Regions from separate parts of the Homo sapiens genome. Here region 2 is linked to region 1. Evidence: fine-mapped expression QTL. Tissue or cell type: whole blood. Region 1 holds a variant in brackets; the other region holds the start of a gene. All regions are shown on one strand. Distances are from middle to middle.

Region 1 (8,187 bases):
TTTTTATTCCAGTAATTGTAATCCAAGATGTTCAGTTTTATAGAAAATATAAGAATAGAAATAAGCATTCGTTTCAATTGAGCAGTTACTAGTGCTTAATGCCCATTATCATATTTTATCCACCAAAAACAATGCCAAAAATTAAAAATGAGGTAGGTCTGTTGCTACTACCCATTTTCAAGTAGGCATCCCGAGGCATGGAGATTAAACTAGCTTCTCCAGAGTCAAACTCCCAGTAAATGTCAAAATGAAGATAAAAATCTAGGCAGAGTTCTCATCCCACAATGGCAGCACAAGCCAACTACTGCCCATTCCTCCACAAATTACAACTAAAATCTCTAGAAGAAATACGAAAAAGAACTACTTGAGCATGCTGAAATTAATCAAAAGCAGGTGGATTGTTAAAGGGTGTCAAAATACAGAGAAGCAACTGCACAAGGATAAGTTTCCCAGATTATGAGAAATAAACACAATTGCTGGAATCTAACTCCGGAGCATGGTATTAGAAGTAAGGCAAAACTGCAGTTACTTTTGCACCAACCTAATACTTCTGCCTCAGAGGCACACCCCTATTGTGGGGTGGTGCTGCGGTGACCATGGAGTGGCCAGCCAAATAGAAGTTGAGGAAAACAAAAACACTTTGAAAAGGAAAAGGGCCCTCTGGGGGCTAAAGAGTGAAAGCAAGAAGAGACTCCCAGAGCCAAGAGAAAGAAGCTCTAATTCTGTGTATGAACCTAGATAAGTCTGATTCATAAGTGAGACAGACTCAAACCAGCATAGCAAAGGCTTTGCGAAGTGTACTGGGATTTTAACCACCACCCACAGAAGATCAAGACAGCTTGTAGTCTGAACCTAACCAGATTGATTTCTTGCTAAAACAAAAATGGCATTTTCCAGATGATTGTAACATGATCCACAAAAACATAACTTCCATCCAATGCCACAATATAGTAAATACAGTAAATATCCAGGATCCATATGACATAATATTGGATCCAACCATACAATAGAATATCTAAGGCCCTGAGAAGAAGCTGTCATATGGATCCAGGATCCATATGACATAATATTTACAAAATGATGTGACATAAAAAGAAACATGGAAATGTGAACACTTGGACAGAAGGAGCAGAGTGAAACTTGTTGCAACATCCTGGCCTGTCTGTGGGCTGCCTACAGAAATGGTGTCTGTAATGTCCAACTCAGGTATCAGACTGGAGACAGCAAATAGTTTTGATTTCAGGCTGGAAGCCACAGAAGGCAGTGGTGAGCAATGCAGCACATGAAAACTACACAGGGATTGCTGCCCTGTGGACCTCTGAGGGCAGGAGATTACAGAGGAATACAATAGAATATCTAAGGCCCTAAGAAAAAGCTGCAGTGAGACTGTTTAGGAAATGAAGACCTTTAAAATCACCTTTGATGGGGACAGGGAGCACACACACATTCACAGGAAGGAAGCATGCCTAGAAAAGACCTGAGAAGACCTGGACTAATCTCAGATTAGTGAAGACCTCATGGACTTACAAATTAGTGAGGTCTTACATGCCAGTCTGCAAAGACTGGGAGAGTGGCCATATTTTTTTTAAATACCCAATTTTCAAAAAAAGATCATAAGGCATGCAAAGAACCAGGGAAAGATGGCCCACTGAAATGAACAAAACACATCTCCAGAAACAGTTCTGGAAGAAACACAGGCATCAGGCTTACTAGACTTTAAAACAACTGTCAGCCAGGTGCGATGGCTCATGCCTATAATCCCAGCACTTTGGGAGGCCAAGGCAGTCAGATCACTTGAGGCCAGGAGTTGACACTAGCCTGGCCAACATAGTGAAACCCCATCTCTACTAAAAATACAAAAAAATTAGCAGAGCATGGTGCTGCACACCTGTAATCCCAGCTACTCAGAAGGCTGAGGCATGAGAATCACTGGAACCCAGGAGGCAGAGGTTGCAGTGAGCCAAGATCACATGACTGCGCTTCAGCCTGGGCAACAGAGTGAGAGTCTGTCTCAAAACAACAACAAAAAAAAACCACAAATGTCAAATATACTCGCAGAACTGTAGAAAAACATGAACAAAGAACAAAGGAAAGTCAAGAAAACATATGAACAAAATGAGAACATCAACAAAGAAATTATAAAAAAAAATATTGAGCTGAAAAGTACAATAACTAATTTGAAAATTTTATTAGAGGAGTTCAACAGCAAACTCAAATAAGTAGAAGAAAGAATAAGCAAATTTGAAAACAGCTCATTTGAAATTATTGAATTTGAGAAGCATACAGAAGAAAAAATAAAGTGAACAGAGGCTTAGGGACTTATGAGATGCCATCACACTGACCAATATATGCATAATGGGAGTCCCAGAAGGAGGTGAGAAAAATGAGGAGAGAGACTATTTGAATAAATAATAGCTGAAAACCTGCCAAATATGAGGAAAGACATGGATATACAAATCCAAGCTCAATGGTCTCCAAGTAGGACAAACCTGAAGAGACCCATACGAAGACACATAATCAAAGCTGACAAAAGTGCAAGATAAAGAGAATCTTGGAAGGCATCAAGAGAAAAGTGACTATATACAAGAGATCTGCGATAAGACTATCCGAGTATTATTTCAGCAAGAACCTTGGAGACTAGAGGCAGTGGGGTGATATATTTAAAGTGCTGAAAATTTTAAAAAAAACTGTCAACTGAGAGTTCTATACCTGGTAAAATGTTTCTTCAAAAATGAGGGAGAAATTAAGACATTCCCATAAAAACAAAAGCTGAGGGAATTTATTATTACTACACTTGCCCTACAAGAAATGTTAAAGGAAGTCCTCCAGTTTGAAATGAAATAATGCTAGATAGTAACTGGAAGACAGATGAAAATATAAAGTTCTCCAGTAAAGGTAAATATATGAACAAATATAAAAACAGTATTAATGTAATTTTGGTTTATAACTCCACTTTTGATTTTCTACAGGATTTAAGAGACAATTGCATAAAATAATTATGAATATATGTTAATGAATATATAATATTAAACCGTATAATTTGTGACATCAATAACATAAGGGGAGAAAAGCTTTAAGGAAGTAGAGTTTTTATATGCAATTGAAGTTAAGTTGGTATCAATTAAGATAGATCATCATAACTCTAGGATGTTATATGTAGTGCACATAGTAAACACCAAGAAAATATACGCAAGCAGAAGTGAGAATCAAAATATGCCATTACAACAACTTTAAACATGAAGGAAGGCAGTAATCAAGGAAATGAGGGAGAAAAAAACCTGTAAGGGACAGAGAAAACAACAAAATGGCAAAACTAATTGCTTTCTTTTCAGCAATTTATATGTAATTGGATTGAAAACATATCAAAAATCATAAGTTGGCAGAGTGGGTATAAAACCAGGATCAACTATATACTGTTTAAAAGAGTCTCACTTTAGATCTAAGGATATGAGTAGGGTGAAAGTGGAAGGATTAAAAAGATATTCCATGCCAATAGTAATAAAAAGAGAGCAGAAATGGCTATACTAATTGACAAAATAGACTTTAAGTCAAAAACTGTTAAAAGAGACAAAGACAGACATAATATAATGCTAAAAGTCTCAATTTACCAAGAAGATATGACAATTATAAACATATGCACTAAATATTAGAGCTCCAAAATATATGAAGCAAACATTGACAGAATTGAAGAATAAATGGCCCTACAATAATAGTAGAAAACTTCAATACCTCCACTTTCTTCAGTGGATAGAGAACCAGGTAGAAGATCATAGGGGAATATAGGACTTAAAAAACACTATAGACCCACTGGACCCAGCAGACACATACAGTACACTGCACTTAACAACAACAGAATATGTATTTTTTAAGTGCACATGGAGCATTTTCCATATGTTAAGCCATAGGACATCTTAATAGATTTAAAAATTGAAATACAAAATATCATTTCTCATCACAATGAAATGAAACTAGAAGTTAACAGCAAAAACCTGGACAATTCACAAGTATGTAGAAATTAACACACTTTTAAATAACCAATGGGTCAAGAAAAATCACAAAAAATTTAAAATATCTTGACACAAATGAAAACACGACAAACCAAAACTTATGGGAGGATCTGAAAGCAGTGCTAAGATGGAAATTTGCAGCTGCAAACACATTAAGAAAAAAGAAAGATTTTGAATAAACAGCCTAGATTTACACCATAAGAAACTAGAAAAAGAACAAACTAAATCCAAAACTAGCAGAAAGAAGGAAAAAATAAAGATTAAAGATAA[A/G]TAAATACTAGCAATGAAAATTCCAAAAAGGAAATTGAGAAAAACCATTCAATTTATAATAACATCAAAAATAACCAAATTTAGGAATGAGTTTATCCAATGAGGCATAATACTTAGTGAAAACTACAAAACATTACTGAAATAAATTACAGAAGACAAATAAATAAATGGGAAGACTTCACATGTTCACGGATTAAAAGACTTAGTATTATTGAGATATTAATACTACCCAAGGTGATTTGCAGATTTAATGTAATTCTATCAAGGTCCCAACAATGTGTTTGCAGATATGTAAAATGTATTCTAAAATGCATATGGAATCTTAAGGGACCCCAAATAGGCATAATTACCATACAATCCCACAATTCCACTTCTGGGTATGTCTTAGTCCATTTTTGTTGCTATGATAGAATACCATAAACTGAGTAATTTATAAAGAAAATATATTTATTTGGCTCATGGTTCTGGAGCCTGGGAATCCAAGATTGAGGGGCCACATGTGGTAAGGGTCTTCTTGCTGCATCATATCATGGCAAAGGCATAGCATGTCAAGGAACCACACAAGTGAAACAGAGAGAAAAAGGAGATTGACCTTCTGACATACTAACCCACTCCCACAGTAATGGCATTAATCCACTCATGAGAGCAGAACCCTCATGACCTAATCACACCTTAAAGGTCTCACCGTTCAATACATCACATGGCAATTAAATTTCTTTTTTTTTTTTTTTTTTGCCACGAAAAGATTGTTTTATTCCATGAAAATATTCTCAACAGAAAACACTACCTTTAAATGAAGGATTTACCATTAAGAAATCAACATGTGCACAAAAAGAGTACAAATTACCAAAAAATTAAAGATTTTTGGGGACATTTCACATGTTTAAAATTTAAGAATGATTTAAACTGTGCAAATACAGATGTCTTTCCTATTATAATAGCCCATATACAGGTTGCACTATTCCACGTCAAGGAACTTGCCTGCTACGGAAGCAAATCCTGCTTTTAGAAAAACAAACAGTGGCTTGAAAAGAACAGTTAGTCCTTACAAGAAAGTCTTAAACTTTGCCCTCTGTGGCTGTTAACCAAAAAACCATAAGCATTTCAGGCTTTGTACAGAAGACAAACACAGCCAGATCACATTTCCTCCTCATTGCTAACCTTTAAAATAAAAATAGCACTAGATTTTAAAACTACTTCATGTAGTCTGTCAGTACTGAATAACGTCACATTATATAAATAACCCTGTAATGAGATTCAGTATCTAAACTTTATAGTTTACTAGCTGCAAAGGTAATACAATATATGTCAGCTGTGTAACAGTGGTGACTTGATCTTATGAAGGCAGTAACTTTCACACAATTGTCATTCGGCTGTAGTAAAACTGGTAGTATGATTCAAATAACACTGGGAAAAAGTTATTAAAGCAGTCACACAGCTTCTAAAATATTGCTTAAAATTCAATAATACACAAACCATTTCACATTCTTTCTCCCCTCAAAACAGTAAAGAACCAAATTAATGAAGATTCAGTGGTACAAATAACACCCCACCTGCCCCATCTCCCTATTACAACACCACTAAGAACTTAGTTAAGATACAAGTCATTAACAGAATCACAAATGCGAGGCAGGACACCATGAGCAACAGGAGCACTAACAACAATATATTTACAAGTATAAACATACAGAAATTCCATTTTACAAGTAAAAGTGCACATAGATCATTACAAAGTTTCACTAAATTTTATCAGGTTCAAACAAAAGCATCACGTGGAAACATTATCACTGTAATTATCAAACGTGATCGTCATAACCCCAAATAAAAAGACAACTGGGGGAGGTCCATAAAACTTCCCATAAAAACACTGAGGAAATTAAAATGGACTTGGACATGTCTTTAGTTTGATGCATAAATCTGAAGATGCACCACTGTATATGGTAGAGCTCTAATAGCCACCTACCGAGGCTACGTCGGCAGCTGCAGCGGTGCTGCAGAGTTAAAGGAGATCGCACTGAGCTGACACATGAAGCCCTTGGTGGGATACTGTAGTGGTAGTGTTGGCAATCAACAGATTTTATTCACAAACAAAATCTGTTTTATTCACTTAAGAGCTAGACCGGGTGATTTATTTTGCAACTCTCTTTAAATCTATTTAAATAGATTATGTGCTATGTACTTATTTTCTTCCTTTAGGAAACCAAAGTTAAGAAAAGGGAAGAAAATGAAAATGATGTTATTATTTTACCAAGTTATCCAACTACTATTTTTCTTCCTGGAAACTGTAGCTACAAATTCAAACTTCTAGAAGAAACCACTCTTTGGGGAGTCGGCTTTCCATAGCATTTCAGAGCAGTTTCACTTATTCAAATCCACTAGAGTCACTGTGTTTTCTGAAGTAAAGGGGCAGACAGCATTACTATCCATGAATTCCTGTCCAATAAATTAAATTATGTTTGTAAGGCAGAAAAACACAAATCCTTCACACAGACTTAAGCAGGACATAAAGCAAAAGGCATCAATGAAGCTTCACACCAACGTTACTCAAACAGTAAAGTGACATGGCAATTAAATTTCAACATGAGTTTTGGAGAAGACCTTTAAACCATAGCAGAGTATATACCGCAAATAATTGACTAGCAGAGACTTGAACAGATATTTGCATACAAAGCATTATTCACAAGATAGAAAAGTAAAAACAACCCAAGTGTCCATCAACAGATGAATGGATCAACAAAATGTAGTCTATACATAGAATGAAATATTATCAGCCTTAAAAAAGAATAAAATTCTGATACATGCTACAACATGGATGAACCTTGAAGACATTATGCCAAGTGAAATAAGCCAGACACAAAAGGACAAATATTGTATGATTCAATAGGCAAATTCATAGAGTCAGAAAATAGAATAATGGTTACCAGGTGCTGAGAAGAAAAAGGGGTAGAAAATTAATGTTTAAAGGAGAGACAGTTTCATTATGGGATGATGAAAATGTTCTGGAGAAGGATAGTGACGATGGTTGCATAACAATGGGAATGTACTTAATGCCACTAACTTAATTACACTTAAGCACTTAAAATGGTAAATCTTATGTTATGCACATTTTACTATAAGAAATATTTTTAAAAAGCAATGCAATTCACCATATTAATAGAATAAACATATTATTAATAGATACAGAGAAAGCATTTGACAAAATTATACATTCATGTGTGATAAAAACAAACTAGAAACAGTAGGGAACTTCTCAAACTTATAAAAGGAATCTGCAGAAACCTAGAGTAAATAAAACACTGAATTGTTTTTTCTCTGAGATTGAGAAAAAAAATGAAAGATGTCTGCTTTTACCACATCTGTTCAACATTGTACTGAAAATCTTAGTCATTGCAATAAGGCAAAGAAAGGAAATAAAAGACAAAGAATGGAAAACAAGATGTAAAAATGTTTCTCTATTTGCAGATAATATGACTATTTACATTAAAAAAAATCCCAAGGAATTATATGATCCAGTAATGCCACTTCTGGGTATTTATCCAAAAGAATTGAAATCAAAATCTTGAAGAGACATTAACACCTCTATATTCATCGCAGCACCATTCACAATAGCCAAAGTATGGGAAAAATGTAAATCTTCATTGACAGAGAAGTGGATAAAGAAAATGTGGTATATACGTACAATGAAGTACTAGTCAGCCTTTTAAAAGACAGAAATTCTGTAATATGTGACAACGTAGATGCACCTTGAGGACATGCTAAGTGAAATAAGCCAGTCACAGAAATAATGCATGATTCCATTTATATGAGGCATCTAAAACAGTCAAATTCATAGAATCAAAGAGCGTAATGATGGTTACATCCCAGGGCGTTGTGGGAGGGGGAAATGGGAATTAATGATCAACAGGCTTAA
Region 2 (8,187 bases), 25 kb before region 1:
ATGACTTTCTTCTCTAAATTATAACGATGGGAAATAAGAAAAACACCCCAAAGCAGGTAATATTCCAGCATACTATTTTTAATATCTCTGACATATAAGATTGTGTAGGAAGGCAATACAAAGCCTAGCTAGGAAGAAGAAAAGAGGATTAATTTTGTAAAGGAGACATAATAATGCCACAGGTTTAATTTATCTCAAGCAATGTCATCCAGCTAAAGCAGGAAACAATTATGATACAGAACGTTGAACGTGGACTAATCATTTTAATGACTAATGGAAAAAGCTATAATAGATTTTTCACCCAGAAATTTATAGAGTTAAGTAACACCACAGTTGCCTTCGTACCACTCTCCCCAGTTCATTTCGGCACAGGAACTTGGCAACAGTCAAAGTCCTCTGCCTTTAGCTACCACTCACTGAAAAAGCAACATTTCAAACCACAAAAACACTCATGTTAACACCTTCTGACAACTTAATGAAAAGGTAGCAACTGACTCACAACTTATTATCAAATGTGGAAAAGCACGCTCTAGAAGGAAACTTTCAACAGCTCATCCATCATCCAACAAACCTTCACAGAGTACAGTATTTTCTGTCAAGCAGTGTGTCCAGAAATGAGAAAGGGGTTGAATACAGGGTAGAATTCTTCCCAGGATATGCCCCTTGTAATAAAATAGATTACTAATCAGATATAAAACACAGTGACATAGGGGCCAGAAGAAAGAAACGCCCAGGAGACTGTAGGAACTCAGGACAGGACTAACCAGTGGGTGGGTCAGAGGAGATTCCTGGATATGCCAATGCCTGGAATGAGAGAACCTGGAAACTCAGAGAAACTGAGCATCCCAAGTTCACCTGAAATGGGAAGTTAACATGTGGGGCTGGAAAGAGGTGCCTGAGAAGGTAGGCAAGGGCAAATCTTGTGGGCCTTATTTGCCAGTGCTAAGCAGCTTGGGTTTGTTTAACAGGCAAAGGGGACTCACTAAGAGATTTTCAGCCAAGGGGAGAGATCGGGGAGAATCGTGTGGAGTGTAAGATTTAAAATTTAGGGAGACCAGCCTGGAAGCAGGGAGAGAATGGATTGCAGAGGTAACTGAATTAGCAAAACTGGGAAGTGGCTGCTACAGGAATCCAGGTAACAGTAATCTCAAAATCAATGAGAGCATGAATTAAGACGATGCAGAGGGATGTGAGATGAGGGGGAAAATTAAAAAAATATATTTAGGAGACAGAATCACTAGTATTTGATGAATGATAGATGTGAGGTGTCAGTGAGGTAAGGGAATCAAAGACTCTTCCAGGTTTCTAGCTTGCACTGTTAATTGGGACAGTGTATCAGAATTGTTCCTCAAGACTGAATGTGACAGACTCTGTACATGCTGTAACAACAGTATCTGATGATGTAAATATTGGAAATAAAAATTATCATGACTGACAGAGTCATCATGTAACATTCTACTCTGATATAATCTATTCTATGATCTTAAAAAAGAAACATTCACACTACCACTGAGCACAACACTGTGAAGTCGATATGCTGACCCCAAAGATTCATTATAGCCGGAGACAACACTTCCTGTGCACCTGCTAAGAGAGTCTGAGATTCTCTCAACCCAAAGAACATCAACGGCCCTCCCAGGCAGCATCAGTCCCCTGCAATCAATAAGACAGGATCTAACCAGACTGGAGGACCCCCTCCCCAAGATTTTCATAAGCTCCAGGGGAAGCTGGTTATATAACAGGGTGAAGATTAGAGCTTTAGAGAGGTCTTGACTGAGTTTCTGCCTTTCCTACTCTTATCCAGAACCATTACACCCTGAAGATATATCTGGAGTCCAGGATTTCACTGAGAACTGGATAGCTGGGCATGCCAATTGTATCTTCAATGGCTCTCTGCTTGCTCTCAGCACGGAATCCAAACTCCTTAGCACAGATACAATGATCTTCAAGCTCAGGTGGAGAATCTACCAAAATCACAATGGTTCCCTTTTGCTGCAACTGGCCCTCCCACCCACAGGGCCATGGCAGCCATGTTTACAAGGCATGGTCTGGACACCTCTTAACAGTTTAGTAAACCAAATACGGACCCAAGATGACCCTCTTTAGGATCTAGGAATCTAAATGTCTGTCTCTTTAACCAGGAATGTCTGTCTCTTTAACCATCTCCTTTCTCTCAAATGCTGGATATAATGGGGCTTTAGTAAATGACAGCTGGTAGATATGCAAATGATTTCTCCAATAGGAAAAACATTCCTCCCGAGGTTATGGTTTTATTGCTCTATGGGATATTAACCAGTTTTGTTTCTAACTTTGCAATCTATTCCAGCATTCTTTTTTTAACATTGACTATATTAAACTAGTCTTTTAACTTCTTCTTTAGCACCCTGTTGGTTCCCTAATTAATGAGCTAAGTAAATCTTTGACACATGCTCTTTCTATATTTTTAAAATTATAGTTTGAAAAAGATAAGCTAATTTCCCACACCCCACTCTTTTCTGTGGTAGGTATAAGCCTGAGAGTAGTTTGCTTGCATTGCAAAAGGTTTCACTATCAAAATATGCTTACCAGTATGAGATTTAAAAAATATTTCCATGACAGCTGTTTCATCTTCTGGAAATGAATGAGTCTTGTATTATCTGCAATATCTGATTACTGCATTTCCATTACCTCTGAGGTTATCTAACAGCCTTGGAGAGAGTCAAGGTCTCTGAGAGAGGCAGCTCAGCCTACCAACTACCACTTTGTAATATATGGAGAGGCCAGGTGTGGTGGCTCACACCTGTAATCCCAACACTGGGAGGCCGAAGCGGGTGGATCACCTGAAATCAGGAGTTTGAGACCAGTCTGACCAACAAGGTGAAACCCCATCTCTACTAAATACAAAAAATTAGCCGGGCCTGGTGGCGCATGCTTGTAATCCCAGCTACTCGGGAGCCCGAGACAGGAGAATCACTTGAACCCAGGAGGTGGAGGTTGCAGTGAGCCGAGATTGTGCCAGTGCACTCCAGCCTACGCAACAAGACGGAAACTCCATCTCAAAAAAAAAAAAATCTCTTTGGGATAAGCCCAAATTGTTCTATTTGACTTTTGGTGTTGCCCCATCTACACTATTACCCAGATCTACCTGATGAAACTTAATGATAAAGTTACTTGAGACTTGGACTCTGCCCACCTGCAAGCCTCCTGTCTTTGGGGAATTCACCTGATTAATCTTTCTGGGTCTCAGTTTCCACATCAGCTCAACAGGGCAATATGCTCAACAGGGCAATTTCCACATCAGCTCAACAGGGCAATATCATTTTCCTTACAGGGTTGTCCAAAGACTTACAATTAGCCTGGCTCACTATAGGTAGTCCACAGGTGTCAGCTACATAAATCTAAAACTCCTAGGCATGCTTGGATGGGACAACTTGGGCACAGAATTTAGAGGGGTGGTTTTGTTTCGTTTTGTTCTGTTTTGTTTTTTGGTTCTCTGGGAACTGGACAAGGTGACACAGCCAAGGCCCTTCCAACTCTTAAGAATTCTTCCCCAAAGAAAATACTTTGCAAATGCCTCAGCAGAACTCAAAAATATCCACAAACTCTTCACTGACACTAAAAACTTGGGTACTCCAAAAATCACTTCTGACCCCCAGGCGTCCTACCAGGTCTGCAAACCTTCGATTTGGGGATGCATGACCTAGCAGCTTTTAAGCATACGCCCTCAATTGTTACCCCACCTCCCGGCTCAGGGCTGGCCCTCGGGATGCAGCGACCCCTCCTCGCCAGGCTCCGCGGGACTCCGGGCAGGGCGCTCAGTGCTCCGGCAGCCACAGGGTTCGCAGAGCTGAGGTCCGCCCGAGAGAGCAGCCGCGCCTCCAGCTCGCAGTTACTCGGAGCCAGGCCGGGGAGCATCTGTGCCCCGCCCCACGCGCCGCGCAAGTCCTCCCGGGATCACCCTCCCCGCGCCGCGAACCCCCCGCACTTCCTCCACTCCCGGGTGATACCCGGCCTCGCTCCGGCCCCGCCCCCGCATCTGAGCCCCGACTCCTAACCGCCTAGAGCTCCCGCCCCGCCCACGCACCGACCCCCCCGGCCCCACCCCCGAGCCCCCGCAGCCCCAGAGGAGGCCACGGGCTAGCGATGGCGAATGCGGCGTGGCTACGCTCTCAGCCTGGCCCCGCCCCAACCCTGGCCCCGCCCATGCCCCAGGCTCCTGCCTGGGCTCTGCTCTCGGCCCCGCCCCGCACCCAAGCCCCGGCCCCACCCCCGAGCCCCCGCAGCCCGGGAGCCTAGGCCCCGCCCCCGAGTCCCGGCTCCACCCCCGAGACCCGGCCCCACCCCCGAGCCCCCGCAGACCGAGCTAGGCCCCGCCCCCGAGACCCGGCCCCACCCCCGAGCCCCCGCAGCCCTAGAGCCGCCCAAGGGATGGCGATGGCGTACTTGGCTTGGAGACTGGCGCGGCGTTCGTGTCCGAGGTAAGCTTGGAGTCCCGGCCGTTCGGCCCATGGTCGCCCGCAGGATACCGCTGTCCAGGCGAAGGTCGCCGCCGTTGGAAGACCCTCCTTCCCTATTGTCTAGGTGGCAACAGGATTTTGCTTTGCTGGTTTTCCGGTGAGGTAGTGCTAAAAAGTGACGACCTCACGCGCGCCCTCCTGCACCGCTGGGCCCGGAGTGGTCAGGATGGGCGCGTCGGGAGGTCAGGGCTATGGTTCCCTGTCAGCAGTCCCCAAGGTCTCCGCCTGCCTCCGCGCACGCTCCCATCCTCCTGGGGCCGGACTCCGGGCGGGTGAGCCGCCCCAGCTGAGCACCCGGGCCTGCACTTCCCAGCCGGGCTGCTTCTGGGGTGCAAAGCGTCGCTTGCTAAAAGCGAGGTAAACGCAAGCCGTTATCACTCGTGTGGACTTAACACTCTGCTTCTTGGAGAACACGTATGCTATAAAGTGAAATGGCCGGGTACAGAGTAACGGCTAAGAAGCACGCTGCACCTCCCTGGGGTCCCGGGAACCCGCACGAATCTGTGCATAGGGAACAAAACCGAAACACGGTGGTGGCCTTGAAGTGGTAGAATTATGAGTGATTTTCCCGACTTTATGTATTTTCTTAAATGGTCGTGTTTTTGCTATTTGTTTTTAAAACTCACGCTTTATTTAAAAATAAATTTGTTCCACATTTTGTGGAAACTTGTACATTTCGGCTTTCTGTGGATATTTTAAATTTTTCTTTCGTTTTCTACGTGGAATTTGCCATATAAGATGCAGTTTTTCCCTTTACAGAAAATCATTTTAATGTAAAACTTACTCTAGGCTGATCTTACTGAATCAGTTACTAATAGTCCAAAGTTTGAACCTAGAGTTCATTGCACCATTTTCGAGTTACATAATTGTGTTTGTGTGTTAGGTTTGGGCTTTGTAACCTGTATTATTTTAATCATCTTTTTTGCCATTAACTCTATTATTCAGTGTCATCGTCGTGAACTCCATTTTTAGCTTGTGGCCTGAGTCCTGTGCATTCAAGTTTGCCACCCCACCCCCGCTCACTATGTGTGCTTAAAAACGTGCTGATCACCCCCGCGGTGGTTGCTGTTTCTGCTCTGTTCCTGGCTGGCTGGTTAAACATACCCATAGAAAGGGGCACGCCTGCTGAGCCCCCTTCACTGACTCCCTTCCACTGCAGGTAGATTCCCTCCCATCTGCTGAGAAGGCTGTGGCTCTATCTGGAATGCCAGCAACTGCTCGTGTGTTCTTTTGAATATTTCTTGTATGTTCACATCCATTCTCCCCTCCTTCCACCTGTGTGTATGTTGGAACACCAGCTTCGCCAGCAAAGAGGCAAGAATTGACCTGATATAGCTTATGGCTTATCAGTGAGTGCAGAGGCTGTTTCAGGACTTTGGGACACTTCACTAAATTCTGTGCACTTTAGCCTTTTGGTTTCCTGCTGTCCACTGTCTTGCATGCACTTCACTTCTTGCCTTTGGCAAAATTTACATGGTCATTCCTGTTCTGGCTGCTTTTATCTTTAGTTGCTTACAGATACCTCCCTGGATGGTTACTTTTCCTTTTATTTAAAGTTACTACTGTTAGCTTCTGTATTGACTTATTATCTTGGAATCCTTACAGCCAATTATTTGCAGCCAGTTTGCTGAGGCAAGTATAAAGAAAATATCTATAGACAAACATGGCATTTTGTTATGTATAGGCTGGGAACAATTAGAAATCAGGCTGCAGAAATGTGAGGGTTGGGAACAAATAGAAATCAGTCTGCCTAATTGTAGTTCTCTGCAGGTCACTAGTTTCCCGGTAGTTCAGCTGCACATGAATAGAACAGCAATGAGAGCCAGTCAGAAGGACTTTGAAAATTCAATGAATCAAGTGAAACTCTTGAAAAAGGATCCAGGAAACGAAGTGAAGCTAAAACTCTACGCGCTATATAAGCAGGTAAATGCCTACGGTCGAACGTTATTTAAAGAATTTTGGGCAAATGACTTCTTAAATAAATACACTGTGTGTTTACTAAAATGTGGCCTTAACATTTTGGTTTGTCTTGCTCCCTCTTCTCTGAAGAGTGTGTGTGTGTATATATATATATGCCAGTTTTTTATATTAGACCTTGAAATACTATTAAGGCACAAAGTGCCTCAGTGTCACACGAGTAAAAGAGACTTACGAGATATAATATTCACATTTGTAGACCTTACTTAGCTCTTGATTAGAATAAATCAACTGAAAAAGGTATTTTTAAGACAATTGGGGAAGTTTTGAGTAAGGACAGAGTGTTAGAAGATACCTAGAAATCATCGTTAATGGTGTCAAGGTTATATAAGAAAATGTTGATATTTTTAAGAAAAGTGTACTAAGGATATAGGGGTGAAATAGCATGGATAGTTGAAGTTCTCTAAGCACAAAAAGAAAAGGATAGATGAGGCCAGGCATGGTGGCTCACGCCTGTAATCCCAGCACTTTGGGAGGCTGAGGCGGGCAGATCCCTTAAGGTCAGGAGTTTGAGACCAGCCTGGCCAACATGGTGAAACCTCATCTCTACTAAAAACTCAAAAATGAGCTGGACTGGTGGCGCACACCTGTAATCCCAGCTACTTGGGAAGCTGAGGCAGGAGAATCGTTTGAACCTGTGAGGTGCAGGTTGCAATGAGCCAAGATTGCGCCACTGCACTCCAGCCTGAGTGACAGAGCGAGACTCTGTCCAAAAACGAAAGAAAATAAAGAGAGAGAGAGATGAAGCAAGTAAGGCAGTTTGATAATTGTTGAACCTGGATGATGGGTATTGGGAATTCATTATAGTATTCTACTTTGGTATGTTTGGAAATTTTTATAACAAAATTTAAAAACTAAAGCTCTTAAGTTTCAATGCCAAAGACTTCCCTGGCATGTCTGCCTCTCTGGGCTCCTGTGTTATCTATTTTTCTGTCCTATGATGGGTATGAGCTTCTCTTTCATATGGGTGTGTATAGTAAAAAATTTAACCTTGCCCCAGAAGAGGTGTGGCTTTGCCCTCAGCTTCTGGGAAGTGAATCTCTAATGACTGGTAGGAGTCTTTATTTGCCTGGATTGTCTTAACGATGTGATTTAGGGTGGGGGCTTCAGGTTATACAGTCATGCACAGGTGATGGAGCCCTGTTAAAAACTCTGGACACCGAGACTGGATGAGCTGAGCATCTCTGGTTGGCAGGACTCCCTGTGTACTGTCACATCAATTCTGGTAGAGGTGCCCTATGCTGACTCCATGGGGAAAGGACAATGGAAACTCCACATTTGCTACTGCCCCAGACTCCATCCTGTGTGTGTCCTCCCTTGGATGATTCTAATCTCTATCCTTTCCCTTAATAAACTATTAATTGTGCGTTTAACAGCTTGCAGTGAGTTCTGGGTGTCTTTCTAGCAAATTGTTGCACTTGAGGGTGGTCCTGGGTGCCCTCCAGCCTTGCAATTGGTGTTAGCATTGAGGACAGTCAGGAGACAAAGGCAAGCCCTTATCCTGTGGACTGTGTTCCCTCTAACTTCTAGGTTGGCCAACTCTTGCCAGATGACACTATCTCTGTCTAAAGAAATTCATAACCTCCTTTACTGCCTTTTTCTTTTTTCTTTTTTCTTTTGTTTTTATTTTGTTTTTTTGAGACAGAGTTTTGCTCTGTCACGCAGGGTAGAGTGCAGCGGCACCATCTCAGCTCACTGCAACCTCTGCCTCCCA

The links. PIP is the estimated chance that this variant, and not a neighbour inherited with it, causes the effect.
Region 2: ECI2 starts here. The variant in region 1 is fine-mapped to the expression of ECI2 in whole blood (INTERVAL, PIP 0.92).

Annotation. Positions count from the first base shown.
Region 1 is chr6:4,106,825-4,115,011 of GRCh38, reverse strand. It overlaps the pseudogene TEX56P. Among named protein-coding and RNA genes, the nearest start is that of ECI2, 25 kb to the left of the region's middle. The variant A/G (reference allele first, on the strand shown) is at 4,278.
Region 2 is chr6:4,131,781-4,139,967 of GRCh38, reverse strand. ECI2 (enoyl-CoA delta isomerase 2) reads left to right here and starts at 4,393. Exons shown (of 10, transcript NM_206836.3): 1 at 4,393-4,457; 2 at 6,257-6,419. The coding sequence starts at 4,408. It overlaps ECI2-DT (ECI2 divergent transcript), which reads right to left and starts at 3,896. Exons shown (of 4, transcript NR_103764.1): 1 at 3,720-3,896; 2 at 2,566-2,607. RefSeq lists silencers at 3,838-4,047, 4,208-4,347.